6 separate regions of the Homo sapiens genome follow, and regions 1, 2, 3, 5 and 6 are each reported to be linked to region 4. The links are microRNA targets in miRTarBase. Many come from high-throughput screens and were not tested one by one. Region 4 holds a microRNA gene; each other region holds the end of a gene's coding sequence. Distances are between the middles of the regions.

Region 1 (4,933 bases), not on the chromosome of region 4:
CAGATTTAAATTGCAGAGTGTTGTCTGTTTGGAGATGTACTCCAAAGTTACCAATGGATTGAGATGGGGAGAGGAATTAGGAAAAGGGCTAAATGCTCTTGGTGTGTTTCTGTTTGGTTTGAATGTTTGTAACAAACATGTCTCCCTATATTGCTGGTATTGCCCCGTCCTTTGAGACGAGGGGCAGTTGGCTCTGTTAGACCCTGGGCCAAGTGGGAGACCAGCTGTGGGCACTGAATGTGGAAGTGGCAATGTGAGCCCTGGCTGGGGCATGGCTGTCTTGGGCCCTGAAGCTGCCCTCCCAGCAAACCAGCAGATGGCCTGAGGGCCCCCAGGGATGAACATTGCTCCCGACTGACACACAGCTGCCACGCCCAATATGCAAGCTGTTAGAGGCCAAGCTTGGGAGCTTGGTGACCACAGCAGATGCCTTGATGTTGTGCGCCACTGTCCCTGGGTGTTCCTCTGATTTTGGCAACAGTAGGCCCACACGTGGGACATGCATGTGCCAGGGAGCTGACAGCCCTGGAACAAACTTTCCACCTGGTGGGCGAGAGCTGTGGGTCAGTGCTGCAGCATCCTGCTCCTTCATGCAGAAGATGTGGGGAGGCCCCTCGCACATCTCTGCAGAGTAGAGTTCCCAGTGTGGTCTCAGTAATGCTCCTCTGAGTGGCTTGCTCAGACACACACACTAATCGGTGCCCCTGGCTACCTGTCTGTCTCTCCTGAGGTCCCTCAGCACTCAGCGTCCTATCTGTGTATTTCTGTTGATAGTAGCTGCCTTTGAGGCTGGTCTGGCAAGCGTACTTTTGCAGACCTCAGCTCCTTCAGAGGCGTTGGGCTCAGGCAGGGCTATTTGGGTTCATTGGCCCCTGGTGGAGGCCCAGTTGGTGACTTCCTTTATGCCTCTTCCATACCTCCTTTTCCTTGGATCCCTCTGCCCCTCCCCACTGTGTCCAGCTGTGCCTGCACCTTCATGTATCCAGGTCTGCTTACCCCAGGGGAAGGGCCAAGACCACATCCACAGCAGAGTGGATGCTGCTTGTCTAGGATGGAACATTGGGACCCACAGACCCATAGAGAGAAACTGGTAACAAAAGGGCCCACAACAGCAAACACCATCTCACAGCAGGCGATTTTTTTTTTTTTTTTTTTTTTTGCAGAGGAATGAAATTAAGAGATTTAAAGACAAAAACACAGGCTGGTAGTCAAAGTAAAGGTTTATCCTTGCATCAGAATGGTTTAAATCTTGCAATTTGCATATACAAAGAGTTCAGCAACATTCACTGGCATTATAATCAGAGCAAGATCAAATTATAAATGTAATCAAAGAAAATATGATAGTTGAAACTGTAATAACATACATACATTATAAAGACTGCACATAAGTTAAACACAACTTAGTTAAACAAACAAACAAAAAAGTATCAGTAATTATACACTTAAAAGAATAACATGGGGATGTCTCCAAATGCTGAAACACAGGTGTCAGGCTCATTTAAAAAAGTGTTTAAAAACACATAAAAATACCTTTTAAAACACTGGTATGCATTCTTCATTCATATAGCACATGGAGAGAAACCGTAAAGGCAGTCACATAGTGACCAGATCACACACAGATCAGAATGGTCGTCTTCTAATCACTATTTGGCATTTGAACCCAACTGCATGCAACAAAGGAAAGTGTGAAAGGAACAATGGTGTCGGCACTGGGCTGTTTGGGGGCTGTTTTGTTATGTACAATGGACTTTCTTTGACTGAAGGAAACAAGAGATGAACTTTCCAGGTTGCACGGAGAAGATTCTGAGTCCCTCAGGGATTGATTCCCCCAGCGTGAGGTGCTCCAAGGCCCAGGAGATCCTGTGATCTGGGGCCTTGGTAGAGGCCATGAGGCTGTAATGACCTCCCCGCTAAAGGGCGAACGCTGTCCCGGACAGTGGAGGGGAGAGTCTTGCGTCCTGGGGAAAGTGGCTTCTCCTTTGTTCCTGGAATGGAAAAAGTTTGGGAACAGGCAGAACCCCTGCAGTGGACACCTGGGGTTGGTCTAAGGGGACAGGAAAAAAACATGAGCAGGGCCCTTTCCTGAGGGCACCCTGAAAAGGTCTACCTTAAAGGTACTTCTTGATACAAGAGATGCCAGTTAGACCATTAAAGGGCTTCAAGGATTCTGACAGAGGGCTCCTAGACATGAACCAAAGCCGGTGCCCCTCGACTTTGACTTCGAACTCTCAAATAAATGACCAGAGAAATGTCACCTTCATCGTAGCAAACTGGCTCTTTTTCTAGGGTTCAGGTGCTGAACAGAAGCTTACTTCCCTCTCTTCTCCTTCAGTCAAACAAAGGCTTTGGGTTTGGAATTTTAATGGTGAAAACAAAAGGGACCTGGCGAGCCTCAAAAAGCTCCATTTTCCTCTTCCGCCGAGATGCTGAATCATTGTACAGAGAAGGAGAGAGGAGCACGTTCAGCAGTGTGCAGCCCAGGCATGCAGCTGGTGAGGATGGCGGTCACAAAGTGTGCTTTCGTCCTTCCAGCTGGGCACCAAGTCTTGCCCTTGGATGGGGCTCAGAGCCGTGGAGTGGGCGAGAAGCTTGATTCCCTGTGAGCATCTATCAGAACAATAATGTGTCCTGGGGTTGCATTTGCACACACTGTTAATGAATAGGGGACGAACACTGCAACATGAGGGTGCGATCAGTTATCAGTGAAAATGTCAAATAAGGCCTTTATGTAGCTTTTAGAAAACAAAAAAAAAAGTACCAAAAATGCACGTGTTAAATGCTTTTAGTAGTAAGGTAGGCCAGATATCTTTTTGTTTATATTGTGCACATCTGCTAGGTACCTAATGGCCATAGAAAGATAACTGCTGTAAGATTCAGTGTTGGTACATTCACACCCCATTCTTTTTTTTTTTTTTTCCCCGTCAGTCAATCTTATCTGGTAATGGGATCATTACTGTTATCCAGTGTCAATGGTCTCAGTAGTATTTCCATTCAAAAATAATTTAGCTTTTAGATTAAGGATTTCTCTTTTTGTTTTATTAAACATTGAAAGGTGGGACTTTAAAAAATGGTATAAATCTAGATTTTAAGGATTCTTTTCTTACAAACTGTCTCAGCTTTTTACAAGAAATGTTTAAATACCAAAATGCTGCTCAGAAAATTTAAAGTTTAATTGCCCGTGGTTATTCTACTGTTTCTATCCTAATGTGTGCTCCTCTGTACTGCGTGTGTAAGACGCTCAGTTCATCTGAATGTTTGGATGGGAAGTTTTGTGTTGAGCCTCCAGGCATAGCACTGGACCAGCCCAGGCCGCTGTGGCAGAACGGGAGGGGAGAATGGGAGAGGCAGCTGGTTTTTTTCTGAGGGTGGTCTGGGCCAAACGACAGGCAGCTGGACAGCAAATGGTGCTTTGGGGTGTAACTCCGATGGCTGGTTTTGTTGTACCCAACGCCGTGGGTCAACGGGACCACCCAGCATTTACATCTCTTCTCGTTCAGCCAAGATAGTGTAGACACAGTCTTGATGGTGTAGACACAGCATTTTAAAATATTATTTATAGTCACCAGCTACTCTAGTGTGTTTTAGACCTGGATTCAGGTTGTAAAGACTTCTTTGATCTTTAAAATGTAAAGATAAACCACATGGACCGAAACTGAGAACTTTACAGAAGTCCCCATTTACATTGTACCATCACGAACAGTTTGCCTTCCAAAAATGCTGCTGTTCAGGGTTGTGAATTCACTGTTAGGAAAGTGCATTTTCGAACTGACTTCTGAGTCCTCAACTGTTTTCTTAACATGAGCTTTGTGTTAGTATCTTGCAGAGGCACACTTCGCATATTAAGATTACAACATTTAAAGGTGTTGAATATGTGAAATTAAATGATATGAATCTAATGAAAAATTAAGATATTTACTAATATTAGCAGAAATATATATTTTATGGGATATTATTTGACCTTAATACATTATTCCAATTTTTAAAAAGCATATTTAAGATTTAACAACTGTATAGCAGGTGGCCTTTAAGGCATAACAAAATATATACAAAGAAATTAGGGAAGATATTAATGTCAACTATGAAATAAATTAACATGATTTTTACAAAATATACTGACCATTAAATTAAAAAATATTTTAAGGCAGGAATCTTCATTTGAAATTAGCATAATCAGAAAATATATCAATAAAATCTTGTACCACTTTGTAGCAGAATTCATACTGTTCCTGAAAAGACAAACAAGGACACATTAAAATGATATTCCCAAAAATATATTTGATTAATCAGGAGAAATACTCAAAAACAAGACATAAATAAGTGTGACTATTCATTAAAATACCATATACCTTTATGCACATCGTAATTTAGTTTTTAGGCACATGCAGAATTCCAAATAAAGCTGTTTTTCTACGTAGAATGTGTCAGTTAGTGTATTAACATTTCAACTTAGTGTATTTAATGGGCTGAGTTAAATGTCTGTGGCTTTCACATTGAAACTGGAAAACAACTATTTTTGAATTTAAAAAAAAAAACAAAAAACCAGGCCAGGTGCAATGGCTCAACGTCTGTAATAAGAGCACTTTGAGAGGCTGAGGCAGGAGGATCACTTGAGCCCAGGAGTTCCAGACCAGCCTGGGCAACATGGTGAAACCCCATCTCTATCAAAAAAGATACAAAAATTAGCTGGGCATAGTGGTGCACACCCATAGTCCCAGCTACTTGGGAAGCGGAGACAGGAGGATTCCTTGAGCCCAGGAGGCAGATTGCAGTGAGCCAAGATTGTGCCACTGCACCACTGCACTCCAGCCTAGGTGACAGAGTGAGACCCTGTCTCAAAAAAAAAAAAAAAAAAAAAAAAAAAAGAAAGAGAAAAAAATCAGAGTACTAACATTGCCAGATAAATTTCATAAAGCGATCTATAAAAGTTAAATAA
Region 2 (4,933 bases), not on the chromosome of region 4:
CATCAGCATTTTGAAGCCACCATAGGTAATTCCAAATTGCAGCCAAGGCTAAGTTGGAGACAACTGAAGGGAAGACTAACAGGATAACAGATAACAAGATACAAATTGGGGTAGTCTGAGTTAAGAATCTTGACCACTGAATTCTCAAACAACGAGTCTAAGGCCATGATAGTGATTCGCTAAAGTGAACTGGAAATGAGGGTAACTGGAATTGATAAAATTGAGCTTGAGGAACTACAGGGCCATCTTGATTTGAAGGTATGTCTTGTATGTCCTCCTAGAAATCCTCTATGCACAAACTTACCTAATTTTACATTTCATAGTTCATTGGAGATGTCTCATTTCTCCAGTGATAGAACACTGATCCGCTTATGACATTTAATTATAGGTCATGGTATTGATCCTACTTCTTGGAAGATTTTTCTTCACTTCAAAAACTATGTGACAATGAGAATAATTGCACTTTACATTTTAATTAGACAGATGCTTGGGGAATTGGTTAATTAGAAAGCCCTTTTTGTTGCAACCCTTACTGAAAACTTTCAATAAAGATATTCATCTAATTAAATAGTAAGTACAAATTCCATTAAGTAAACAATTAGGCATTTTTCAATGGTTTGGGATCTATTGTAGGTAATTATTCTGAACAAGTTGTCACTGCCTGAGAGACTGAATACCTGGTACATCTCTCAGAAATGTTAACTTTTTTTTCCCATTATGGTATTTTCTTTAACTTGCTGTTTCTAAGAATGGGATCCTATTAATGTATACCAGTTACTAAGGTTTTGTTGAACTTTTTTATATAGCCTCCCCACTCCCCACTCCTTTTGTGACATCTAGTTATGGGACCCAAAAAAGACATTTTCCCAGGTTTCAGAAGAGGAATATTGGTGTTTCTCTAGAGCAGTTGGTTTATCATACAGCAGAACACTGAACACAGAACTGATTGTGTTGGATGCTAAGAACCTAGCCCAGAGCCCAACTTTATCAACTGTAGTCTTACAGCATCTACTTTGTTTTAAGAACATTTTGGGCCAGACGTGGTGGCTCCTGCCTGTAATCCCAGCACTTTGGGAGGCTGAGGCCGGTGGATCACCTGAGGTCAGAAGTTCAAGACCAGCCTGGCCAACATGGTGAAACCCCGTCTCTACTAAAAATACAAAAATTAGCCGGGTGTGGTGGTGGGTGCCTGTTAATCCCAGGTACTTGGGAGGCTGAGGCAGAATTGCTTGAACCCGGGAGGCGGAGGTTGCAGTGAACCAAGATCATGCCACTACACTCCAGCCTGGGCGACAGAGCGAGAGTCCGTCTCTCAAAAAAAAAAAAAAAAAAAGCATCTTGGAGCCAGATGGTGTATAAATACAGCATTCTTTTCGAAATCTTTCAAGATCTTCTCAGGGGTATCTTGAAGGTCTCTTTCACCAGCACACCTGACTGTGGCAGCCCTTTGGATTCTTTATACTTTTCTGGTATAAAGCCTTCAAATAGTTCCAGTTGGCTGGGCATGGTGGCTCACACCTGTAATCCCAGCACTTTGGGAGGCCGAGGCGGGTGGATCACTTGAGGTAAGGATGGCAAAACCCCATCTCTACTAAAAATACAAAAGTTAGCTGGGCATAATGGCATGCCCAGTAGTCCCAGCTACTTGGCAGGCTGAGGTATGATAATCGCTTGAACTTGGGAGGCGGAGGTTGCAGTGAGCTGAGATGGCACCACTGCACTCCAACCTGGGTGATGGAGTGAGACGTCTCAAAAAAAAAAAAAAAAGTTCCAGTAGGTGAACTGAGTTTAGTGACACAGGCCAAAGTCAGTAAAACCTGTTTCTCAAAAGACTTGCTTATTAAAAAGCAAAACATAACTTCATCCATTATTTAAATATCCAGGTATTTGTAGAAGGCCAGAAGCACTAAAGGATACAATTCTCTCATACTGGGTCCTTATTTTATCCAGTAGAAGGCAAAACATAGTATTCCAGAAACAAAAGTAGTTTTTTTTTAAAATAAAAGAGAACAGACATAGATGCTTCCCTAACTCCAACTATGAATGTTATTGTCAGTTCTGCTATTACTAGCTTTTGACTCCAAGCAGTAAATATGAGATTTTGGACATAGGTATGGGCAGACTGCATGACTAAAACACCAAAAGCAATGGCAACAAAAGGCAAAATTGACAAGTGGGATCTAATTAAACTAAAGAGTTTCTGCACAGCAAAAGAAACTATTATCAGAGTGCACAGGCAATCTACAGAATGGGAGAAAATTTCTGTAATCTATCCATCTGACAAAGGGCTAATATCCAGAATCTACAAAGAACTTAAACAAATTTACAAGAAAAAACCCCATCAAAAAGTGGGTGAAGGATATGAACAGACACTTCTCAAAAGAAGACATTTATGCAGCCAACAAACATGAAAAAACGCTCATTATCACTGCTCATTAGAGAAATGCAAATCAAAACCACAATGAGATACCATCTCATTGCCAGTTAGAATGGCAATCATTAAAAAGTCAGGAAACAACAGATGCTGGAGAGGATATGGAGAACTAGGAACACTTTTACACTGTTGGTGGGAGTGTAAACTAGTTCAACCATTGTGGAAGACAGTGTGGTGATTCCGCAAGGATCTAGGACCAGAAATACCATTTGACCCAGCAATCCCATTACTGGGTATATACCCAAAGGATTATAAATCATTCTACTATAAAGACACATACACAAGTATGTTTACTGTGGCACTGTTCACAATAGAAAAGACTTGGAACCAACCCAAATGCCCATGAATGATAGACTGGATAAAGAAAATGTGGCACATATACACCATGGAATACTATGTGGCCATAAAAAAGCATGAGTTCATGTCCTTTGCAGGGACATGGCTGAAGCTGGAAATCATCTCAGCAAGAACAGAAAACTAACACAAGAACAGAAAACCAAACACTGCATGTTCTTACTCGTAAGTGGGAGGTAAACAATGAGAACACATGGACACAGGGAGGGGAACATCACACACTGGGGCCTGTTGTGGGTGGGGGACTAGGGGAGGGATAGCACTAGGAGAAATACCTAATGTAGATAGGTTGATGGGTGCAGCAAACCACCATGGCACGTGTATACCTATGTAACCTGCATGTTCTACACATGTACCCCAAAACTATTATTAAAAAAAAAAAAGATTTCATATTTGCTGATATCTCAAGGAAGCAGTATGCTGGAAAAATAGAGGTAAAGTGAATAGTAACATAAAGGAAGCTACAACTCACCAAGTATCAACAGAAATGACCAACACTCCTTGGGTGCCAGAAACCAGCTTAGCCAGGGTGCATACTGTACCACTGGAGAAGAGGTAAGCTGGGTTAACTTCGAAGAAACCCTGGCCAACTTAAATTATAGTTTAATCCTGTTTTACTTGGACCACAACACTTAAATCTAGATAAAAACCAATTATTCCTCCCTGTTTCAGTTGCCAAGCAAGGAAAACAGCTCCTCTGCCCAAGCTTTCTAGGTCATATTCTTCATATCTTTGTATCCCAACTTTCTGGATCTGAATTTTATAGCTAACTATAGGGCATTGCCTCTCTACCATCTCCCGTCCCCTACACAGACACACACACACATACACACATAAAACTACCTATTAATTACAATAATGTTTATATATCTTTGATCATTTTTTAAAGTTCTTTGAACATGTTAGCAAACTTTATACTTCCTATCTTTTAATTAAATTTTCTTTAAATAACTAAGCATTGAAAACTTTACAAACCATCAGTTATCTTAAAATGGTTGAGATTTTTTTTCCTTTTTTCCCATAAAGAGTCTACACCAGGGTGGGTCTTTTAGACACCCCTATTTTCTAAGGGCATGTAATCGATTCTCAAATCAACTTTTTCCAAATACAAATTCCTGTATGAACAGGGCCAGTCTATGGTAAATTAATTTAGATGATGGTGTTAGTTTTCCAAACGTCTTTAATAAGTAAATAAAGGAGCAATGTAAAATGTTGCAGTTTGCTTGGTAAATCTTAATTGCGAAATTTCTTCTTCTTTCGGAACTTTTTTCCTGCTGCATTTGCTGCTTTTTCAGCCATGATCTCTGAGTACTTCCTTCGGTTGTATCTGAAAAAGAAAAATCAGAACTTTATGTTTGATATATCAGACATTAGAAGTTAATATAACCTTAGGGTAAAAGTTGGGAATGGAGTGGTGGACAAGACAAGTATAGTCTCTGACCTCATAGCACTTGCTTGCAATCTAGGGAGAAAAAATGGCAACTGTAGTAGGAAGACTTTCCTACTATATGCACTATATCCATCTATCTATCCATATATCCATATATGATCTATATATGCACTATATCCATCCACCAGGCTGTATCAAATGCTTTAAACATTTTTGAGGGATAAAAACACAAAAATCAGGACTAAGCAAAACAAAAAGTCACACTTATCCTGAAAATGCACAGTATGATATATATATTTCTTAGAAGCGACCAATGGTTTTCAAAGTGTGGTCTGTGGAGTAGACCCTTTCAAGGGATTCATTAGGTAAAAACTATTTTCTCAAGAATACTAAGGCATTAATCGCTTTTTTCACCCTCGTTCTCTCATGAGTGTAGTGTTTTCCAGGGGCTACGTGATGTATGTTATCTGCAGAAGCAGGTATGAGCCTCTGTCTTTAGTTAAGCCAGACATTAAAGAGATTTGCACTAAATTATTTTTCATAAAAATATATATTCATGTTAATATGTTATGGGTTATTATAAATGAGTTATTTTTAAATTATTTGAAAATTTATAAGTTTATACATTTTTAAAGCAAAGTATACATATTATAAAATAAATATGAATTCCTTTACCTTCTGAATTCAGAATCAGCCAGCAGTTCTTCCACAATAGTTCTTTTCCTTTGCTTCTTGGGAATTCGTGAATGGTAGAA
Region 3 (4,933 bases), not on the chromosome of region 4:
CAGGACAGACATTAGCATGTCAGACTTCGAGAACTCCAGGGAATTTGGAGCCAATGACAACATGGGAGCCTCTTCGATCACTCAGGAGACATCCCTCGGAGGAAAAGAAGGTATGACCCTCACTCAAGGGAATGCTCAGCCCCTGGGGAGAGTAAGAATTGGTCTCACATCTGGGTTGGGAAAAGGAGGCTAGTAAGGGCTAACCTACCCTCTTTCTTCACACAGAGTTTGTTGCCACCACTGAGAGCACCACAGAGACCAAAGAACCCAAGAAGGCAAAAAGGGTGAGGAGGAAGAAGGAAGCCCCACTACATGACAAAGAAATGCAGCATGAGGGGATGCAGTTAGACTTCAGAAAGAACTACCTCAACATGGGGGCCGATCCCAGAATAGGGAGGATGATATAAATAGTCCTCAGGAGTCCTCAGGACTTTTTGAGGAAGAACTATATCTTACTGGTTGTGGGATGCTGATGTGGATAAGGCCCAGGAAGGAGGTGAGCTATATGATTAGGCTGTAAAACTGCAGGAGAGAGGCAGGCCAGGAGATGAGGAAAGCAGGTGCATAAAAGATGGGAAGCTACAATGCCAAATGCTGGTGATTAAATGGATGCTCTTCCTGGGTTGGGGGACCCAAGGACCTCAGGCCACACATCCTCCCTTGAGGGTTTGCTCAGGACCAGCTTTTTGCCTGGGCCTAGGAGACATTTGCTTGCGGTGGGCAGTTTGAGGCTAGAAGCCCCTGCTCACTTCTCTTGAAGCCCCACCAGAGGCAACTCCTGCCTTGGGTGCCATATACCATCCCCTCAATCTGCCCTAGGACTCAGGGGACCAAGAAAAATAACATCTCATGCCTTTAATCCCGAGGTGAGAGTTTTTGTTGTTGTTGTTGTTGTTTTTATCATATCTACTTTTTCTTGAAACATCTCTGGCATTTAGCAAAGTTAGAACGAGTTATTCCTGGGACAGCCTTCCCCTTTAACTTTGTGGTGCCAAAAAGCTACCTGTCTGGGCTGGTGGAGAAAGAAAAACATACACCACCGTGGTTGACCCCAGCCTAGGCCACCTTGCCCGTGGACTGTGTGGGCAGCTTCCGGGGACAGGCCCGGGCAACAGAGGCGGTTCCACTCCGTGTGTCAGAAGGAGGTAGTGAGACAGAAGAAGATATTTTTAGAGGCTGCAACTTTCCATTTCTCAAAATGCGTCCTTCTTGGTGAGCATGGGGGCTGGGATGAGAACAGTGGGCCCCAAAGGCTTGTGTTGCTTGGACCAAGATCACGAATTCAGGACATTAAGCACCTCCCCTCCCCTGACTCCACCCACTGAGCCAGTGCCCCCAACACTGATGCCTCTCCTCTTGCCCCTTAGTCATCCAAGGAGGAAGCCGAGATGGCCTACAAAGACTTCCTGCTCCAGTCCAGCACCGTGGCCGCCGAGGCCCAGGACGGCCCCCAGGAAGCCTAGACGGTGTCGCCGCCTGCTCCCTGCACCCATGACAATCACCTTCAGAATCATGTCGATCCTGGGGCCCTCAGCTCCTGGGGACCCCACTCCCTGCTCTAACACCTGCCTAGGTTTTTCCTACTGTCCTCAGAGGCGTGCTGGTCCCCTCCTCAGTGACATCAAAGCCTGGCCTAATTGTTCCTATTGGGGATGAGGGTGGCATGAGGAGGTCCCACTTGCAACTTCTTTCTGTTGAGAGAACCTCAGGTACGGAGAAGAATAGAGGTCCTCATGGGTCCCTTGAAGGAAGAGGGACCAGGGTGGGAGAGCTGATTGCAGAAAGGAGAGACGTGCAGCGCCCCTCTGCACCCTTATCATGGGATGTCAACAGAATTTTTCCCTCCACTCCATCCCTCCCTCCCGTCCTTCCCCTCTTCTTCTTTCCTTCCATCAAAAGATGTATTTGAATTCATACTAGAATTCAGGTGCTTTGCTAGATGCTGTGACAGGTATGCCACCAACACTGCTCACAGCCTTTCTGAGGACACCAGTGAAAGAAGCCACAGCTCTTCTTGGCGTATTTATACTCACTGAGTCTTAACTTTTCACCAGGGGTGCTCACCTCTGCCCCTATTGGGAGAGGTCATAAAATGTCTCGAGTCCTAAGGCCTTAGGGGTCATGTATGATGAGCATACACACAGGTAATTATAAACCCACATTCTTACCATTTCACACATAAGAAAATTGAGGTTTGGAAGAGTGAAGCGTTTTTCTTTTTCTTTTTTTTTTTTGAGACGGAGTCTCTCACTGTCGCCCAGGCTGGAGTGCAGTGGCGCAATCTCGGCTCACTGCAACCTCCGCCTCCCAGGTTGACACCATTCTCCTGCCTCACCCTCCCAAGTAGCTGGGACTACAGGCGCCTGCCAGCACGCCTGGCTAATTTTTTGTATTTTTAGTAGAGACAGGGTTTCACCGTGTTAGCCAGGATGGTCTCGATCTCCTGACCTCGTGATCCGCCTGCCTCTGCCTCCCAAAGTGCTGGGATTACAGGCGTGAGCCACCGCGTCCGGCCTCTTTTTTTCTTTTCTTTTTTTTGAGACAAAGTCTCACTGTGTCACCCAGACTGGAATGCAGTGACACAATCTCGGCTCACTGAAACCTCTGCCTTCCAGGTTCAAGCTATTCTCATGCCTCAGCCTCTCAAGTAGCTGGGACTACAGATGTGGGCCACCATGTCTGGCTAATTTTTTTTTTTTTTTTTTTTTTTTGTAGAGACAGGGTTTCGCCATGTTGACGAGACTGGTCTCGAACTCCTGGCCTCAAGTGATCTGCCGCCTCAGCTTCTCAAAGTACTGGGATTATATAGGCATGAGCCACTGAGCCTGGCCCTGAAGCGTTTTTCTCAAAGGCCCTCAGTGAGATAAATTAGATTTGGCATCTCCTGTCCTGGGCCAGGGATCTCTCTACAAGAGCCCCTGCCCCTCTGTTGGAGGCACAGTTTTAGAATAAGGAGGAGGAGGGAGAAGAGAAAATGTAAAGGAGGGAGATCTTTCCCAGGCCGCACCATTTCTGTCACTCACATGGACCCAAGATAAAAGAATGGCCAAACCCTCACAACCCCTGATGTTTGAAGAGTTCCAAGTTGAAGGGAAACAAAGAAGTGTTTGATGGTGCCAGAGAGGGGCTGCTCTCCAGAAAGCTAAAATTTAATTTCTTTTTTCCTCTGAGTTCTGTACTTCAACCAGCCTACAAGCTGGCACTTGCTAACAAATCAGAAATATGACAATTAATGATTAAAGACTGTGATTGCCACCAACGAGGCTCAGACTGTATTTGCACCCAATACCTTCTGTCTCCCAGACAGCCTCTTCAGAGCTTTTCTTTTCTTTTTCTTTTCCTTTTTTTTTTTTAAGACAGGGCACTCTGTTGCCCAGGCTGGAGTGCAGTGGTGCAATCATGGCTCACTGCAGCCTCAACCTCCTGGTTTCAAGTGATCCTTCCACCTCAGCCTCCAGAGTAGCTTGGACTACAGGCGTCCACCACCACACTGGCTAACTTTTTGTATTTTTTTGTAGAGACAGAATTTCGCCATGTTGCCTATGCAGGTGTTGAATTCCTGGGCTCAACTGATCCTCCCACCTCTGCCTCCCAGAGTGCTGGGATCACAGATGTGAGCCACTGCATCTGGCTGCCTTTTGCTTTGGTCCCAATTTTAGGCACCCTGGGACCCCCTTGTCTGTTAAGATCATTCCTAGGTTCTGGTGCTGAACCATGTCATATCCTCTAAGGGCTGCCCAAGCTGTCTGTTGGCAGCTAGCCCCCCATCTCACCCCTAGACTCTTCCACAGGGCTTCTGTGTGTGGAGAGTTCTCTCTGCAAGAGAGTTCTCCCCAGTCTGCCATCCTGCCTGATGTGAACCTTTGCTTCCACCCAGGCCTTAAACATAATGCTGTGGATGCTATGAGCTTCCCAAGCCTACCTTTTCCTGGGACTCAGACTTCAGGCCTCCTTTGGTGTTCCCTCCAGCCCCACTAACTGCAGTACTCCAGTCTCAGTTCCCAGGCCCTGACCTGGGTCAGAGTCTTGGGCTTCTATCCAGCCAGAAGAGGGGGCATCAGAAATGTTTTTTTCTTTCTTCTGTGATGGGGATGCATACCTTCTGGAATGACAGCAAATCGTTCCAGGAGGATCAAAATGACAGGTGTGTCAGAAACTACCACTGTCTTACCCTTCCAGGAAGCTGTTCTCTGACTCACCAAAGGGCCATGTTTATGGTAGAGGATTAAGATGCAACTTCTGTACGCATTGCAATAACCAGCGAGCCAGTCCTGAACTCGTGTAGCCTATCCCAGCCCTTTGAAGCAAAGGTCAAGAAATGTCACTAAAGCCAAAAGCGATCTTATATTATTCCTAAGTGATATTGTCAGTAAGGCTCAAAGTCCATCTGCTCCCCGTGTAGCACAAGAAACCCTTTTAAATAAGGAAGCTAGTTCATAGGTTCCAGTGGACGTGAGTTTGGAGAGGATATGATTCAGCTTAGTATAGGGGAGTGACCATAAACTGCAGGATTGATGATGATAAACCAATTAGCAACGGTCAGTGGCCCCGAGCATTCAAGGAACTGTTTAAACATTTGATGACAAGGAAATCTTTCCCAAGTTCTTGAATTATCTTAATGTTTATTCTTTTTTAAAAGTCCAATATGTAAAGACAGGACTATTATTAAGGCCCAACAGGACTATTATGAAGGCCCAACTATTATTAATGCTCAACCACTGCTGGGCATTATTAAGGCCAAACAGTGGTTAGGAATTTTTTTTTTTTTTTTTTTTTTTTTTTTTTTTTTTTTTTTTTGGTAGAGACAGGGTCTTGTTTGTTGCCCAGGCTGGTCTGGAACTCCTGGCCTCAAGCAATCCTTCTGCCTCTGCCTCCCAAAGCATGGGGACGACAGGCGTGAGCCACTGCACCCAGCCAGGAACTTGTTTATAGC
Region 4 (4,933 bases):
AACTTTACATACTGTAAAGTTGCTACATTTTAATTTAAAAAATGAACATTGGGAGTTGGGAAAAGCCACTGTGTATCCTGAAAGTTGATGTGTAATACTGCAGAATATTTTTAAATCAATGGATAAGGTTTTTTGATACAGAATGTGACAGATTTGATCAAATATAATCTACATTTGAAATAAATGTATTTTCATTCAGAACTAAAAATGACCAAAGGCTAGTTTATTGGAGATTAGTTTTATGTGACTAAAATGCCTATTACATCAGAAGCCCTACTGAAGCAAAAGAGAGTGGCTTTCACGTTACAAAAGGAACTTTTCAGACTTGACTTTAAGAAGTTAAAATCATTTCATGTAGCTAAAATTATTTTAGTGACTATTTAATAAGGTGTGGTTCTTTCCATGTAGAACATTTTAAGCTCTTACATAATTATTCAGTATTGATACCCACATTTTATGACCATTTTCTTTCATTCTTGTCTATTTTTAAACTGTTTACATAGATTTCTTCTCTGCATTTACTGTGTATCCTGGTTTTTCTTCACTTGAAATCCATCATGAAAATAAAATTTTAAAATAAGGCTGCCTTCATAAAAGGTTAACTTTCCAGGAGTTAATGCCATCATTTAAGGAGAGATTGCTTTCTCTTCTTAGCTATGAGTTCCTTAGAAAAGTAAAACAGCCTAACCTTGAATTTTGGGGGAATAAAAACAAAGTTTTAGAAACTGGTAAATATTTTTTATTTAGAGATTTTTAAAACCTGAATAATCATCTTAACATTGTTAACCCATTGTCAGGTGGTAGATGGCATCATTCATTCATTCATTCATTCATTCATCAAACCTTCACTGAGAACCTCCTTTAGTACCAGACAAACCCTGGATACATGTTGTGAATTTCTTCTGATGAAATGAAGTTAAGTTAAACGAAACATGGTGTTTCTTCCCTAGTAGAGAGATGGATAGGTAAACAAATAATTGTAATAAAGTATCAGTTCTGTGATCTAGGCATATGCAATTATGTGACCTAGGCACAGTATAATGGTGGTAAAAGGAAAAATGAACAATTCCTCCTCAGGTTGGGGGAGGGGTGTGGGTGTTAGGGATGACGCTGACCAGAGAGGATTCACAAGAGAGAATACTTGATTTGGGATTTGAAGACTGTATGGGCACTTGCCAGGTAGAAGAGTAAGCAGAAGTGCAGAAACAGAATAAAGAACAGGTTTGTGTGATTTAGTTCTTCAAGTGTTTTCACCCTTTCAGTTGTGACAGAATTCAGTATTCAATGAGCATGGGGTCATAACTTTGCAGCCCAGCCCATTCAAGTTATCATTCTTAGGGCTCTTTCCTTCTCCACTTCTCTTCCTATTCTTTCCCTCCTGCATGAAAGGCCTTATGAAGCCCAAGCCAGGCTTGTGAATTACCCATGACTTCTCCATCTCCACAGTGCCTCTCCCCTCAGCTACTCACTCACTGAATTCTGCTGTTCTTCTTGTCTTTATAATTTCTCATATTCATTTTCTCTGTGTTCTTACTGCCTCTTCCCTAATTAAGGCTCCCATGCTCTCCCTTACACTACTGCAGTGATTCTTTTCCTGTTTTCCTTACCTGCCACCTTAAAGCTAGAGTAAATTCTCTAAAGTACTGACATGGTCATCCCACTTGCCTGCTTACTATCTTTCACTCGTACCCATCGTTTGGAGATAATGCCCAAACCCTTTAACCTGGCACATAAGGACTCCCATCTTTCCCTTGTGTCTCTCCCCTTACCCTTCACCCACATGCATCTTTGACTCCACCTCTGCTGAATTCTTAAAGGCCTCAGCATACATTACCTTTGTCTTTCTTTCTCTATTGGATGACTGTTCTTTCTGGTACACTTTAAGCTACACTATCTTCTTCACTGCCCACCCCTTCCAAATTCCCATTAGCACCATCTTCACCTAGCTAATTTTATTCAGGCTTCAAGACTCAGCCTGGCTATTAGCCAACTCAGAAGTGTCTTTTGACCCATCATAACACTTATAGTAATGGTGTATGTGTCTGTCTTGCAAATTAAGCTGTGTCCTTCTCGAAGGTAGGGATGATACCCTTCATTTCTCATCACCTAGAATTTAAAACATTGCTGATATATGGCAGGCAGTCACAATTGTTTGTTGAATGAATGAATGAATGAATGAAATGAGTAAGATCCTGTAACAGTTTGGAATTATATGCCACCTGGGTTTACAGTGTAGTCTCTTATCAGGTAGGTTTGTTCTGAGATGTATAGTAATGATGACTTTCTTCTTCGCCCAAGTATTTTGTGTACCTTAGACCAGTTTAGCAAATGAAGTCCAAGAACTATTTGAATAAGTCATTCTTAGAAAATAACTTTAGGAAGCAACTGACTCCATTCATGTGTATGCCTCTAATTGTAGGTTCACTTCTGTCCGAATATGAATTTTTAAAATAATTTTAGCATTATATTAGCAATTTGCAATATACCATTTTTATGCATGTAAAGTTGTATTCTAACATATTTACTTTTTGCTCATTTGATTAAATTTATTACTGTGTATCCCATCATTAAGGTAACTAATTTTCAGTAATTAAACTGTTGGTCTTCTGTTTAGCCATTATTCTCAGTTCTGTGCAGGAGTGAGCTGAAACAAAGTTGTATAGCCCAGAGAGTGAGAAGCTGCATTTCATGTCTCCCAACAGTCAGAAAGGGATTATGTACTGTTTAAGGAAGGAGTTTGGCGAATATTTTGAAACCCTTTTGGGAAAGCATAGAATATTGAAAATCCAAAATTAACCAAATCCGTGAGTGTGCAAGCTCAAAGCTAGAGACCTTAGGAATATCTTAGGATGTGCAAAACAGGAAGAAAACAAGAACTGAGCAGGCAGCACTAAGTAAGTGTCATATAGCCTCCCCACCCACCCTTCCAACCCTACTCCTAAAAGAGCCATAATTTAGTCCCAAGTATACTTTTCTGATCTTTTCCTGTGACATATTATGGTATCTTCAAATGGTACTGGGTTTCCTGAGGCTTGTGCTGCTGACTGCCAACCCCATCCTAGAGAGCACTGAGCGACAGATACTGTAAACATCCTACACTCTCAGCTGTGGAAAGTAAGAAAGCTGGGAGAAGGCTGTTTACTCTTTCTGCCTTGGAAGTCAACTAAAGAGAAATGGATTTTGAATATTTCTATGTCTTAGAATTGATCCTATCCCGTGTTTGTTTCTGAGGTCAACTGTAAAAGGAAAAAAGGTGAATTGACTAAGTCATCCAAAGAAATGTAAGATAATCTATAATATCAGTTATATTTGAACTGTTTCACTTAGTTTAAAAAGAAAAAAAAGATTACCAAATACCCAAGTGACAAAAGTTCTGGTTAACTTGTATGAGGCTACATTTTGTGGGTTGCTGCAGTCTGATCTGTAAAAGCAACACATTACCTATACGTTAAGCTAAACATTTCTCCTTTAACCTGAGAGCATTCCACACTGAAGTCTGCTTTTCTTGAAGCAAAAATTCTAGTGTCCTTGGACTTGCTATTTTATCAGGGATCAAAGGCACCTTGGAGCCCCATGCTTTAGGAATTGTAATGGCAAACAATAAGGTCTGCTCTTTAAAGCTAGAATATAGTTACACATTTCAGGAAAAAATAGAATTGTTGTTGGAGGACGGGAGAGGAAGGAAAATGTAGAGGTAAGGGATGGGATGCAAGAAGTTAATTTTAAGAAAAATCTACAGAACGAACTCATAAGTTCAGCCTTAACCAGAAAAACTCTTTCATGTAAATCGTTTAAATCAAAGGTCTATTAAACATCTAATCTAGAATGTAACTTACCTGAAATTTGAGTCCATTGCTGATTTATTTAAAATTATTATGAAATAAGCCTTCTTGTTAAAGAGAATATTTAAATAAGGCATATTTTTATATAACAAGCCCTTAAGAAGTTAAATAATTAACTTAATGCTTCTATTAAAAATTAAACAAATCTGAACAAAATTACTCTAGTCTTGGCATATCAGCATATATCAGTCATTTAAACTAAAAGACACTCTACTACTTTAGAAGTATTAGAGGAGCTTTTAATTTTACCTCCGCACTGACTGTAGAGCCTAATACAATAGGAGTAATTGTTTCATATGAGTTTATAGAAAAAAAGTTTAAATACAATGACTTTAGCATGTGATTTCAGGGAAGTATTTGAACAGGCTGGCCTTGAAGCAGTGGTAGACACTGTTGAAGTGCCAGCTTGATTGAGTCATTTACCTTTTTAGGTTTGCCTACAGGCTTAAGAAAACCCTCTTTGAAACAATGCTCTACAGTCTTCTCAAAGAAATAATTGTTATAGATGTTTGAAATTTTGCTTTCTGCTAGGAGAGGCAGATAATATGGGTAAGGGGAAAAGCAACTCTAAGCAGCAGAGAATGATGCATATGCTTTGCCATAGCATTTTATTATTCTGCCTAAATTAAAAGGGGGGACATTCAAATATTCCAGATCTAAATTTATGGTTAACTTTTAGTCATGAATGTAGGTGTTTCAAAGCTTATTGAAATACATGCTGAAATTCATTCATCATTCAAGAATTATTTATTGAGCATCTACTATGTGAACTTCTAGGCACAGGGGATATAGCAGAGAACAGAAACAAAGTCCTTTTTCTCATGGAACTTACAAGAAAATATATAATGTGTCAAAATATAAACATCTTGTGTATCTATGTAAAATATCTAATTTTATTCAATCTTTTTATTGCCTTGTCCTCCAAAACCAAGTGTATTTAAATATTCCAGAATATTTCTTTCATTGACTATGGAAAACTTTGATATAAAGCTATATAATTTTGGTTTTTGTTTAGTATTATTCTTCTAGATATGTTCTAGTTGTTAACTAGCCTGTTTTGTGACATGAGTAAGTAGGATTATTAAGCATGC
Region 5 (4,796 bases), 7.8 Mb from region 4:
TTTGAAAACATTTCCATGTTAGAAATTTAGAATTATTACTACAGTGTTTATATTAATGATCTAAAATGTTTAAATATTCTTCTGACTTAGGATTGGCCTTTTGATGATGGTGCACCACCATCCAACCAGATTGTTGATGACTGGTTAAGTCTTGTGAAAATTAAGTTTCGTGAAGAACCTGGTTGTTGTATTGCTGTTCATTGCGTTGCAGGCCTTGGGAGGTAAATGAATTTATCAATTTGATTCTAGGTAAAAATCTATTGATAATGAAAATACAGAAACTTGAAAAATTCTTATAATTTTTTAATATAAAGTCAACATTTGTCATAGGTATTACTTAAATAGGAAGGGTGGTAGATAATACTTCTGAGTTGGGGAATGTTTGGAGAAATAAATTTACAAAGATCTGATTTTGAAAAAACTATTTATCAAAATTCTTACCTCACCAGAGCTCCAGTACTTGTTGCCCTAGCATTAATTGAAGGTGGAATGAAATACGAAGATGCAGTACAATTCATAAGACAGTAAGTAATGGATTCTCTTTTCATTTGTACTCTCTTTCATTTCCTTGTTGAGTGTCAGTGAGTTTAATAGTCTAATAGCCCATTTAATCATTATGATTATTTTTTGAGATAGTATTAAAACCAGGAAATCAAGATCTTACATTCTTTTTTGCATTTCATGCAGTTGCTCATATTACTAAGATTCTAATCCAACAAGAGTTTTTGAATTATTGTTTTGCTTTAAATACTTGATTGAATATGTTGGTTATTTTGTATTTTTATTGAGGTATAATTAAGATACATTTAAAGATACAATAAAATGCACAGGTCTCCAAAGGAGACCAGTTGACAATAACAGCCAAATTAACCATCCAATACAACACATAGAATATTTTGAGTGCTGTAGAACATGCCTTTGTGGCTTTTGTAGTCATCTTCCCTGCTACCAGAGGCAACTTCTGACTTCACTATAAATTAGTTTTGTCTTTTCGTGGACTTACGTGTAAATGGATTTGTGAGTCGACTGTTGTAACCAATACTCAAACGAAGATATAAAGAAAATTAACTTTTTATGATTTTTTCCATTTACACTGATGTGCCTGTTCATATTCCTTTCTGCATCAGGTCACAGCCTAATTAATCAAAAGATAAATTGCCACAAGAGAGGTGATGGTTGTCTATAAGACACTAAATATTACTGTAGGGGGCTTTTGCCTTGTTTCATTTTTTTTTTTTTTTCCTCCCAGAAAGCGGCGTGGAGCTTTTAACAGCAAGCAACTTCTGTATTTGGAGAAGTATCGTCCTAAAATGCGGCTGCGTTTCAAAGATTCCAACGGTCATAGAAACAACTGTTGCATTCAATAAAATTGGGGTGCCTAATGCTACTGGAAGTGGAACTTGAGATAGGGCCTAATTTGTTATACATATTAGCCAACATGTTGGCTTAGTAAGTCTAATGAAGCTTCCATAGGAGTATTGAAAGGCAGTTTTACCAGGCCTCAAGCTAGACAGATTTGGCAACCTCTGTATTTGGGTTACAGTCAACCTATTTGGATACTTGGCAAAAGATTCTTGCTGTCAGCATATAAAATGTGCTTGTCATTTGTATCAATTGACCTTTCCCCAAATCATGCAGTATTGAGTTATGACTTGTTAAATCTATTCCCATGCCAGAATCTTATCAATACATAAGAAATTTAGGAAGATTAGGTGCCAAAATACCCAGCACAATACTTGTATATTTTTAGTACCATACAGAAGTAAAATCCCAGGAACTATGAACACTAGACCTTATGTGGTTTATTCCTTCAATCATTTCAAACATTGAAAGTAGGGCCTACATGGTTATTTGCCTGCTCACTTTATGTTTACATCTCCCACATTCATACCAATATACGTCAGGTTTGCTTAACCATTGATTTTTTTTTTTTTTTACCAAGTCTTACAGTGATTATTTTACGTGTTTCCATGTATCTCACTTTGTGCTGTATTAAAAAAACCTCCATTTTGAAAATCTACGTTGTACAGAAGCACATGTCTTTAATGTCTTCAGACAAAAAAGCCTTACATTAATTTAATGTTTGCACTCTGAGGTGCAACTTAACAGGGAGGGCCTGAGAAAAGAATGGGAGGGGGCTATTAATTATTTTTAGCAAAATGTTGCCTTTGTCTTGTGCAAACATGTAGAATATGCTCTTTAATTTAGTAAAATATTTTTTTAAAAGGTAGAGATGCTTTGTTATTGTAATCATAAACTTCCTGAAATTCTTGTAATTTTTTTCCCATACTTATCAGAAGTGTGTTTACCAACTTATTTTTGTTTGAAAGTGTGATTTTTTTTTTCCTTCCCAACCTCTCTTGCAAAAAAAGAAATGGGTTTCTGCTAATGAATTGAGCAGACATCTAATATTTTATATGCCTTTTGAGCTGTGTAACTTAATATTTGGATACTTGACAATTTGTTTTATTATGTAATTGATAAAATGGTGATGTGTATTAATGTTAGTTCAACCATATATTTATACTGTCTGGGGATGTGTGGTTATAGTTCTGTGGGAGAAATAATTTTGTCAGTGTTCACCAGCTTGTAAAAACTTAGTGCGAGAGCTGAAACATCTAAATAAATAATGACATGCATTTATCATCATTGAGATTGGTTTGCTTAAAATTAACTTATTTTGTAGAAGACAAAATGAATTGCACTTCACTTAATGTGTGTCCTCATCTTTTTACAAATAAATGAAGGATTATAAATGATGTCAGCATTTTAGTAAACTTTTAGACAAAATTTGTTAGGGTCATTCATGAAAACTTTAATACTAAAAGCACTTTCCATTATATACTTTTTAAAGGTCTAGATAATTTTGAACCAATTTATTATTGTGTACTGAGGAGAAATAATGTATAGTAGAGGACAGCCTTGGTTTGTAAAGCTCAGTTCCACTAGTTCATGGTTTTGTGCAACTTCTGAGCCTCAGTTTTCTCCTTTGCAAATTAATAATTACATACCTTTATAGATTTTGAAATTAATTTAAATATTAGTATTTGGTACATGAAGGCTTAATGTTAAGTTTCCTTTAATGATCCACAATAATCCCTTTGATCACGTTAATCTAAATCTAGATGTCTTTGTCTAATTTTTTTTGAATAGCAGTTATAAATGTAAAGGACTCAAAGTTTAAGTAAAAAGTGATACTCCACCTTGTGTTTCAAAGAATTTAGTTCCACCTCTTCATACCAGTTTAACACTTAATATATTTCATTGGATTTTAGACAGGGCAAAAGGAAGAACAGGGGCCTCTGGAGGCCCTTGGTTATTTAAATCTTGGATTATTTGTGATAGTAATCACAAATTTTTGGCTAATTTTTAACCTGAGGTTTTGTTTTTTTTTTAAAGGAAATGCAGCCTAGTCTTGAGAACATAATTTTATATAATCAATTACTAAATGTTAAACTATTACCACACAGCCCATAAAACAGCATTTGCGTTTATTGAGAGAGAGGATGTGCCATCATGATTAATGAAAACTATCTTTTGAGTTTGAAAAGAAATTAATTTGCAGTGTTTGGATTGTATATATGGTGCTAAAAATAAATTAATTTACTTTATAAACCTTATCTGTACATTATACGATGTGATGAAATTTGCTTTTTATCCAAATATTTTGTATCTTGTAAATATGGCTAATTATAGGAATGCCTATAATACATCTTAGATTCCTTATATCTAATAAGAGTTCAAAGAGTTATGAGTTGAAGTCTTGAATGCAGGAAACTATCTGATAGTGTTCTAAAATTTGGTTACTTGGGTTTGGATACCCTTAGTGGGATGATGTAAATAGAGGCTAGCTACCTAGGCTTGTCTATAGCAACCATAATGTTGATGTAAGTAATGCGGTTACTGAATCATAAGAAAATGCCATCTCTTTTTAGTTGAAGGAAAACTCTGGAAGTAGGTGCCATTGGTCATTCTGCAGTGCACTGCAACCATTGTTTCCCCTAGTGCCCTCTTTTCCCTAGGGCATTGCTCTCCTATTCCCACGCCTTAACACAGCTCTATACCTAGAAGCAGCCAGCCCAGGCATGCAGTCACATTTAATCACATCCCCCTTCTAGAGTGCTTCAAAATGATGTAGTCCCTCAACTTGGCTAAAGAATCTCAATCTCTTGAAATTTATTTTTTTAATGTCATATTCATCTGGTAAATATCTACTGTTTGCCAGGCATTTAAGAATATGGCAAAGAACATAAAAGATGGTGTCACCAGATTTTGGTCACCAATGAGTACCCGACCCGTTGCCATGATTAAGAGAGAATGCTTTCTATTGGAGTTTCAGGAAATATAATTTGAGAATACTTTAAAGGGAAGTGGAAGTATAAGTGAATGATATTTTTCTTTTACATGTAAACAATGAAGTTATTTCAAAGTTAAGTTTTAAACAAAATACATGAAGTAGTGTCTGCCATACATGTTAATATTCTACATTCTTGCTTCCTTAAATTAATATGTTTGTGTGTATATATGTGCCTCACACCTGAATTGAAAATTAAAGACTGGTTTAAAAGTGGTTTAAAAGTGACATTTAATGTTTCTCCATTACGTTTGGGGTAACCAGCCTAAGTGGAATCTTGGAAGGAAAGTAAGGGAAAAACTTGTATTTGCCTTCAATGAATTAAACCAGTGATATGTGTTAACGTATGAATGAAAGGATTGATGGTGATTTTATAATTATATATATTGCCGCAGTAACCAGTTAATAAATTGATAGCTACCATTTATTAATGATTTTATTT
Region 6 (4,933 bases), not on the chromosome of region 4:
TAGCTCTTGAGGGACCCGAAAGAGATGGACTGGTAGAAACAGGCTAGACCATCACTGCTCTCCTCCCCCATCAGCCTGACTCCGAGGTTGCAGAGGCTGGCCGCTGCCTGGAAGTGTTCTTTGAGGGCTGGTTGAAGGAGATCTACCCGGAGAAACGGTTTGCCCAGCCAAGGCAGGAGGACTCAGACTCCGAGGAGGTGTCTAGTGAGAGTGGATGTTCCACTCCCCAGGGCTTCCCGTGGCCTCCCTACATGCAGGAGGGCATCCAACCCAAGAGGCGGCGACGACATATGGTAAAGAGTTACTGCCAGCCAGCAGCAGGTGGGCGGTGATCAGGCAAGCAGAGGGGCACCCAAGCAGAACCTAAGGTGAAGCTGTTCGGGTGGTGCAAAAAGATGGTGGTGACAACGAACCCTCACTTCCAGCCCCTTAGCCCCCAGGGAAGGCAGGGCAGTACAGGGCCCATCAATGCCAGTTACTCACGAGACTTGAAACTCAGAAAGGTGCCTGTCCCTGCCCAGGGTAACCCAGCATTTAGCAGCAGACCTGGGCTGAGAAACCAGTTGTCCTGATTCCCAGTTTGGTGCTGGTTACTCCACACTGTGATTGTGATGCCCCTAAGAAGGGAATTACCTGGTCTTAGTGCCTGGTTTCTATTTGGGTTTGAGAGAGAAAGGAAGGGATCTTTCTTAGCCCCTTGGTGTAGGTAAGGAAGGAGAGGTATTGCTTGCAGCAGAGAGAGCTCCTCTGATCTTTGGGCTGGTCCCACCTGTGTAGACCAGAAATGTCCATTCAGGGCTGTTTAATTCCACTGAAATATTTTGCCTGCCTACTGTGTGCCAGGGTCTGGCCAGCCATCCCCAGTTGTTTACCATACTTAGCATACAATGTTTAGTGGCTTCAGTAAGTTTTACTGCTGCATTCCTAGGGTAGAATAAAATACGTTGACTTGGCAGAACTGCAATCTTGACATAGCCTTTTCATGTTAATAAATCCTACATTTGGCTATTTTAATTCCAAATATATATTTTTCTTTCAGGAGAATGAAAGAGCAAAAAGAATGTCATTTCGCCTGGCCAACAGCATCTCTCAGGTGTGAGAGCCAAAAGGAGACTGGGCACTCTGGCAGCTGTTGTCCCATACTGTCGACCATTCCTCCCCATCTTGCAGCTTATCCTCTTCAGAGTGTGGATGGTAGATGAGTCTTGTTGAACTGTGTAGTGCTCTTCTTTGCCATTTGCATCTACAGCATTTATTTGGGAGCCGTAGTACATCCACTACAGAGAAGATTTCAGTAATAAACAGGAAAGAGGAAGGTATTTATTATTACCAGAGTAATCAGATGTATAGGCTCCACTTGACAAGACCACACCTGGTTAGGCTCGGGAAAACCTACTTTCCTTGGTGAATTTTTTTCTGCCTGGGAAAGCAGACCCGTCTAACCTTTTAGTGTCCAGGGCTCAGGAGCCATGTATACATCTGAACTCCTCCTGGGCTCAGAAGTGGGTAAAAGAAGGGAGAGAGGTTTAGACATATGGCAGGACTGTGATCCCTGGCCCAGCACAGCCAAAGACTGTCACTGTTTGCCTTTGCTTGTCCTGTCTGGATAGAGGCACCTGCCATGTGCAGACTAGTGGAGGCTTCTAGAGGCCATAGGTCTCAATTTGTGCCTATTTGGGTTCTAACGGTTTTCAGGGTATTTGTTTTGCATAGTCACTTTCCTGATGTTGACATAGGTGGCTGCTGTGAAAATGCTGTGGATGGTGTGACATTCTTGACTGAGCTGGGTGGCTGTGGAGAGACCACTTAAATCTTCTGGTTCAGATTTCACTTACAGACTTAGTAAGATGTCCACTTCAGAGCCCGCCCTCTGTGCTACTTACTCTGGGCTAATCACACTTCTTTAGGGTGAGAACCTGCCTTCCTAGAAGTGACTGTTGGTGCTTGTCAGTGGCCATACCCTTCATCATCCTCATTCAGAGGTATGGATCGTGAGTTCTGCTTGTGAATACTGTGAGACAGCTGCTGTCTGCTTCAGGTCCAGAGTTCCATGGGTGGAGAGAGTAACCCACAACCAGCTCACTCCTCTGGGCCTCTCCTCCTGCTTAAAGATTCTAGTTCTCAACCTCTCCAAGTTCATGAGCCAAAGATCAGAAGTGAGTCTTCTGACCAGCCCGCCTCCAGGCTGTCTACAGCCCCAAAAAAGCCAACACTTTTCTGGCAGCCCTTTTTGTTGGAGGTTAGAGAAGGCCTCAGGGACCAACAGGGGCCAGATCTAGACATTCCTGGGGGAAGTTTGTCTAAGGTGGACAGGGGGAAAAATCAAGAGGCAAAAAGCCAGTGTCCTTTGGTGACCATGAAGCAACCTCAGAGCCTTAGTTCTCCTAGAATGCAGAGAGAAGCATTCTGGAAGCCATGGGAACAGGAGCTCGAGGCTGCATCCTGAATGCATCTGCATGGCCCTCGCAGGGTGTTTGTGAGGATACTGGAGGTCAGGCTACCTCCCAAGCAAGGGCTTGGTTGAGAAGGAACCCATTGCTCATATTGTTGGGGGAGCTATGAACCTGACATGTCAGTGGCCAGGACTGAGACAGCTCTCCCTGGTCCTGTCATTGCATGGCTAATTTCAGGGGAGTCTGAGGTCATGGCTTTATTTTTGCTAACAGATGAAGTTCAAGGATGTTCTTGTTTGTAGGGCCTTTGCTAATGAGCAGTTTTTTAATTAGAAAACATTTCTTCTCTCTTTGTGAGTTGATGGTATTGCTCATTTCCTTCTCTACCCAACCTGAGAGATCATCTTCACTTTAAAGCAAACCATGCCCCTTGGCTTGCCATTCTTTCAGCAGCACATGCCACGTTCTAAGCAGATGGGCTTCCGTGATCCCGTTTTCTAGTTTGGGGTAACTGAGTCTTGAATGCTTTACTAGTCCGGCAATCTTTGGACTTAGGCTTCTGCCCTTTGAGACTCACATGACTTTCTGGTTTGGGGTCTGGTCATTTCCCTTTCAATTTTTGAATCTCCTTCTCTGTTCAGTTGGCTTGGCAAAGTACCCTCTGTTCTCATGTCACTAATTCCTGCTCTAGGTCATCTTTCCTTTGTGCAGCCCACATTCCCACCATCCTGTGAACTTTGTTGTACTTGGTGTTGGGCAACTGGTGAGTGTTGTGACAGGCTCAGACCTGATCCTTCCTCAGGAGCAATTGGAGACCACAAATTTAAAGCAGAAATACCTGTTAAAAGCTTGGCTTTCCTTATATGAGTGAGGCTCCCAGCTTGGGTGTGGCCTCCTGGGCTCACGGATCAGCTTGCTGGGCCAGAGGGGGTCTTAGTAATGTGCTAGAGAGACACATGCTCCCTTCTCATCGTAGAGAGCCTGCATGCTGAGAGGCTCCCTTTACACACCTGCCTCTCGCTGGCTTTTCCTTTAGACCTAGCCACCAGTGTTTTGAATCATGGTTTTGTTTTGTTTTTGCATGCAAAAACCAGAACATGACTTAGAAATTAAAAAAAAAAAAATCCTACTAGCCAAGTGACTGCCTGCAGAGGCTCTTCATTAACATTTGGGCTGATCCTGCTTTTGACTTATTCCCATAATGGCCCAGTTTTGAAGTCAGCCAAGTCCTTTTGTCCTTGACAACATCATGCAGTGGAAATACGGTGAGTTCTAGATTCTTATGGGACAGCATGCAGCCCTAGAGGAAAAATTGACTTCTTGGGTATGCTGAGAAATAAGACAGTAAAATGGCTTCAGTTGATGCAAGGGGATTTTAGTTAAAAATTGGTTCAGGATTTTTAAATTTTATTTTATTTTTTGGCTGGGCGCGGTGGCTCACGCCTGTAATCCCAGCACTTTGGGAGGCTGAGGTGGGTGGATCACCTAAGGACAGCAGTTCGAGACCAGCCTGGCCAACATAGTGAAACCCTGTCTCTACTAAAAATACAAATATCAGCCAGGTGTGATGGCACATGCCTGTAATCCCAGCTACTTGGGAGGCTGAGGCAGGAGAATTGCTTGAATCCGGGAGGTGGAGGTTGCAGTGAGCTGAGATCATGCCATTGCATTCCAGCCTGGGCAACAGAACGAGACTCCGTCTCAAAAAAAAAAAAATTGGTTCAGGATGAACTTGCAGAGCACTCTTCCACAGAACATGGTTAGGTTAGCCCTGCCTGACTTCTAGCAATTGCTAACTATACACCTTGCCTGCCTCTAGGACCCCTACCTGAGTGGCAACCATACCTTCCATATGCTCTGTTCCATGGCAGTCCCTGCCATCCCCCACCAGCGGACTCTGGCTCCCTCCCTGTACCCATTTCTAGCAACAGCTCCTTGCCTGGCTGCTAAGACGGAGGCGCCTCCTTGTTTGTTCCTGGGCTCTGTTCTGCTCCCTCTCTCACTCCATGGAGTCACTTATAGTCTTCCTTTCTGAACGCCAGAATTGAGCCTTTGCTCCTTCTGGATCACCCCTTCCTGGGCTTCTTCTCCATCCCTCAGTACTGCTAAAATTGCCCTGCTCCTTTAGTCCATTTCCATGACCTCAGCCCTCTCTCTCCTCTCCTTGTCTTTTAACTTTCTCCTGGACTTCTTCCTCTCCCCAGCATGAACCCAGAGCCTATCACACACTGATGTTTTTGTCAGCATCCTGAACTTTCTCATGCCCTTCAACTTTATTTATTTATTTATTTATTTATTTTTTATTTTTTGAGAGAGAGAGTCTCACTCTGTCATGCAGGCTGGAGTGCAGTGGTATGATGTCGGCTCATTGCAACCTCTGCCTTCTGGGCTCAGGTGATCCTCCCATCTCAGCCTCCTGAGTAGCTGGGACTACAGGTGCATGCCACCATGCCTGGCTAATTTTTCTACTTTAGGTAGAGATGGAGTTTCGCCATGTTGCTCAAGCTGGTATCAACACTCCTGGGCTCAAGCAGTCTGCT

Evidence for each region. The annotated mature microRNA hsa-miR-30c-2-3p reads CUGGGAGAAGGCUGUUUACUCU and lies in region 4 at 3,124-3,145, shown strand. An mRNA with a match to its seed (bases 2 to 7 or 8) in the 3' UTR can be bound and repressed. Matches are read on the target gene's strand: a 7mer-m8 pairs with bases 2 to 8, a 7mer-A1 pairs with bases 2 to 7 and ends in A, and an 8mer does both.
Region 1: the mRNA of PTPRE is a reported target of hsa-miR-30c-2-3p. Seed matches in the 3' UTR shown: 7mer-m8 at 3,337-3,343.
Region 2: the mRNA of DNTTIP2 is a reported target of hsa-miR-30c-2-3p. Seed matches in the 3' UTR shown: 7mer-m8 at 2,250-2,256, 7mer-A1 at 1,678-1,684, 7mer-A1 at 1,535-1,541, 7mer-A1 at 1,207-1,213 and 7mer-A1 at 1,071-1,077.
Region 3: miRTarBase lists PIGR as a target of hsa-miR-30c-2-3p. Seed matches in the 3' UTR shown: 7mer-A1 at 2,337-2,343 and 7mer-A1 at 2,471-2,477.
Region 5: the mRNA of PTP4A1 is a reported target of hsa-miR-30c-2-3p. Seed matches in the 3' UTR shown: 7mer-m8 at 1,876-1,882.
Region 6: miRTarBase lists TRIM66 as a target of hsa-miR-30c-2-3p. Seed matches in the 3' UTR shown: 7mer-A1 at 2,502-2,508.

Annotation. Positions count from the first base shown.
Region 1 is chr10:128,082,125-128,087,057 of GRCh38, reverse strand. It overlaps PTPRE (protein tyrosine phosphatase receptor type E), which reads right to left. Exons shown (of 21, transcript NM_006504.6): 21 at 1,203-4,226. The coding sequence ends at 4,152. Among named protein-coding and RNA genes, the nearest start is that of AS-PTPRE, 22 kb to the right of the region's middle.
Region 2 is chr1:93,865,830-93,870,762 of GRCh38, forward strand. DNTTIP2 (deoxynucleotidyltransferase terminal interacting protein 2) reads right to left here. Exons shown (of 7, transcript NM_014597.5): 6 at 4,854-4,933; 7 at 455-4,115. The coding sequence ends at 4,022. Among named protein-coding and RNA genes, the nearest start is that of DNTTIP2, 11 kb to the right of the region's middle.
Region 3 is chr1:206,926,848-206,931,780 of GRCh38, reverse strand. PIGR (polymeric immunoglobulin receptor) reads left to right here. Exons shown (of 11, transcript NM_002644.4): 9 at 1-110; 10 at 226-284; 11 at 1,368-3,259. The coding sequence ends at 1,463. Among named protein-coding and RNA genes, the nearest start is that of FCMR, 7.4 kb to the right of the region's middle. RefSeq lists enhancers at 750-1,319, 943-1,443, 1,370-1,659, 2,130-2,179.
Region 4 is chr6:71,375,176-71,380,108 of GRCh38, reverse strand. MIR30C2 (microRNA 30c-2) reads left to right here and starts at 3,078; the gene lies at 3,078-3,149.
Region 5 is chr6:63,578,808-63,583,603 of GRCh38, forward strand. PTP4A1 (protein tyrosine phosphatase 4A1) reads left to right here. Exons shown (of 6, transcript NM_003463.5): 4 at 91-221; 5 at 450-524; 6 at 1,250-4,781. The coding sequence ends at 1,367. It overlaps LOC128125822, which reads left to right. Exons shown (of 2, transcript NM_001415059.2): 2 at 1-4,781. Among named protein-coding and RNA genes, the nearest start is that of PTP4A1, 8.7 kb to the left of the region's middle.
Region 6 is chr11:8,614,110-8,619,042 of GRCh38, reverse strand. TRIM66 (tripartite motif containing 66) reads left to right here. Exons shown (of 25, transcript NM_001388022.1): 24 at 75-293; 25 at 1,040-4,933. The coding sequence ends at 1,099. Among named protein-coding and RNA genes, the nearest start is that of STK33, 22 kb to the right of the region's middle.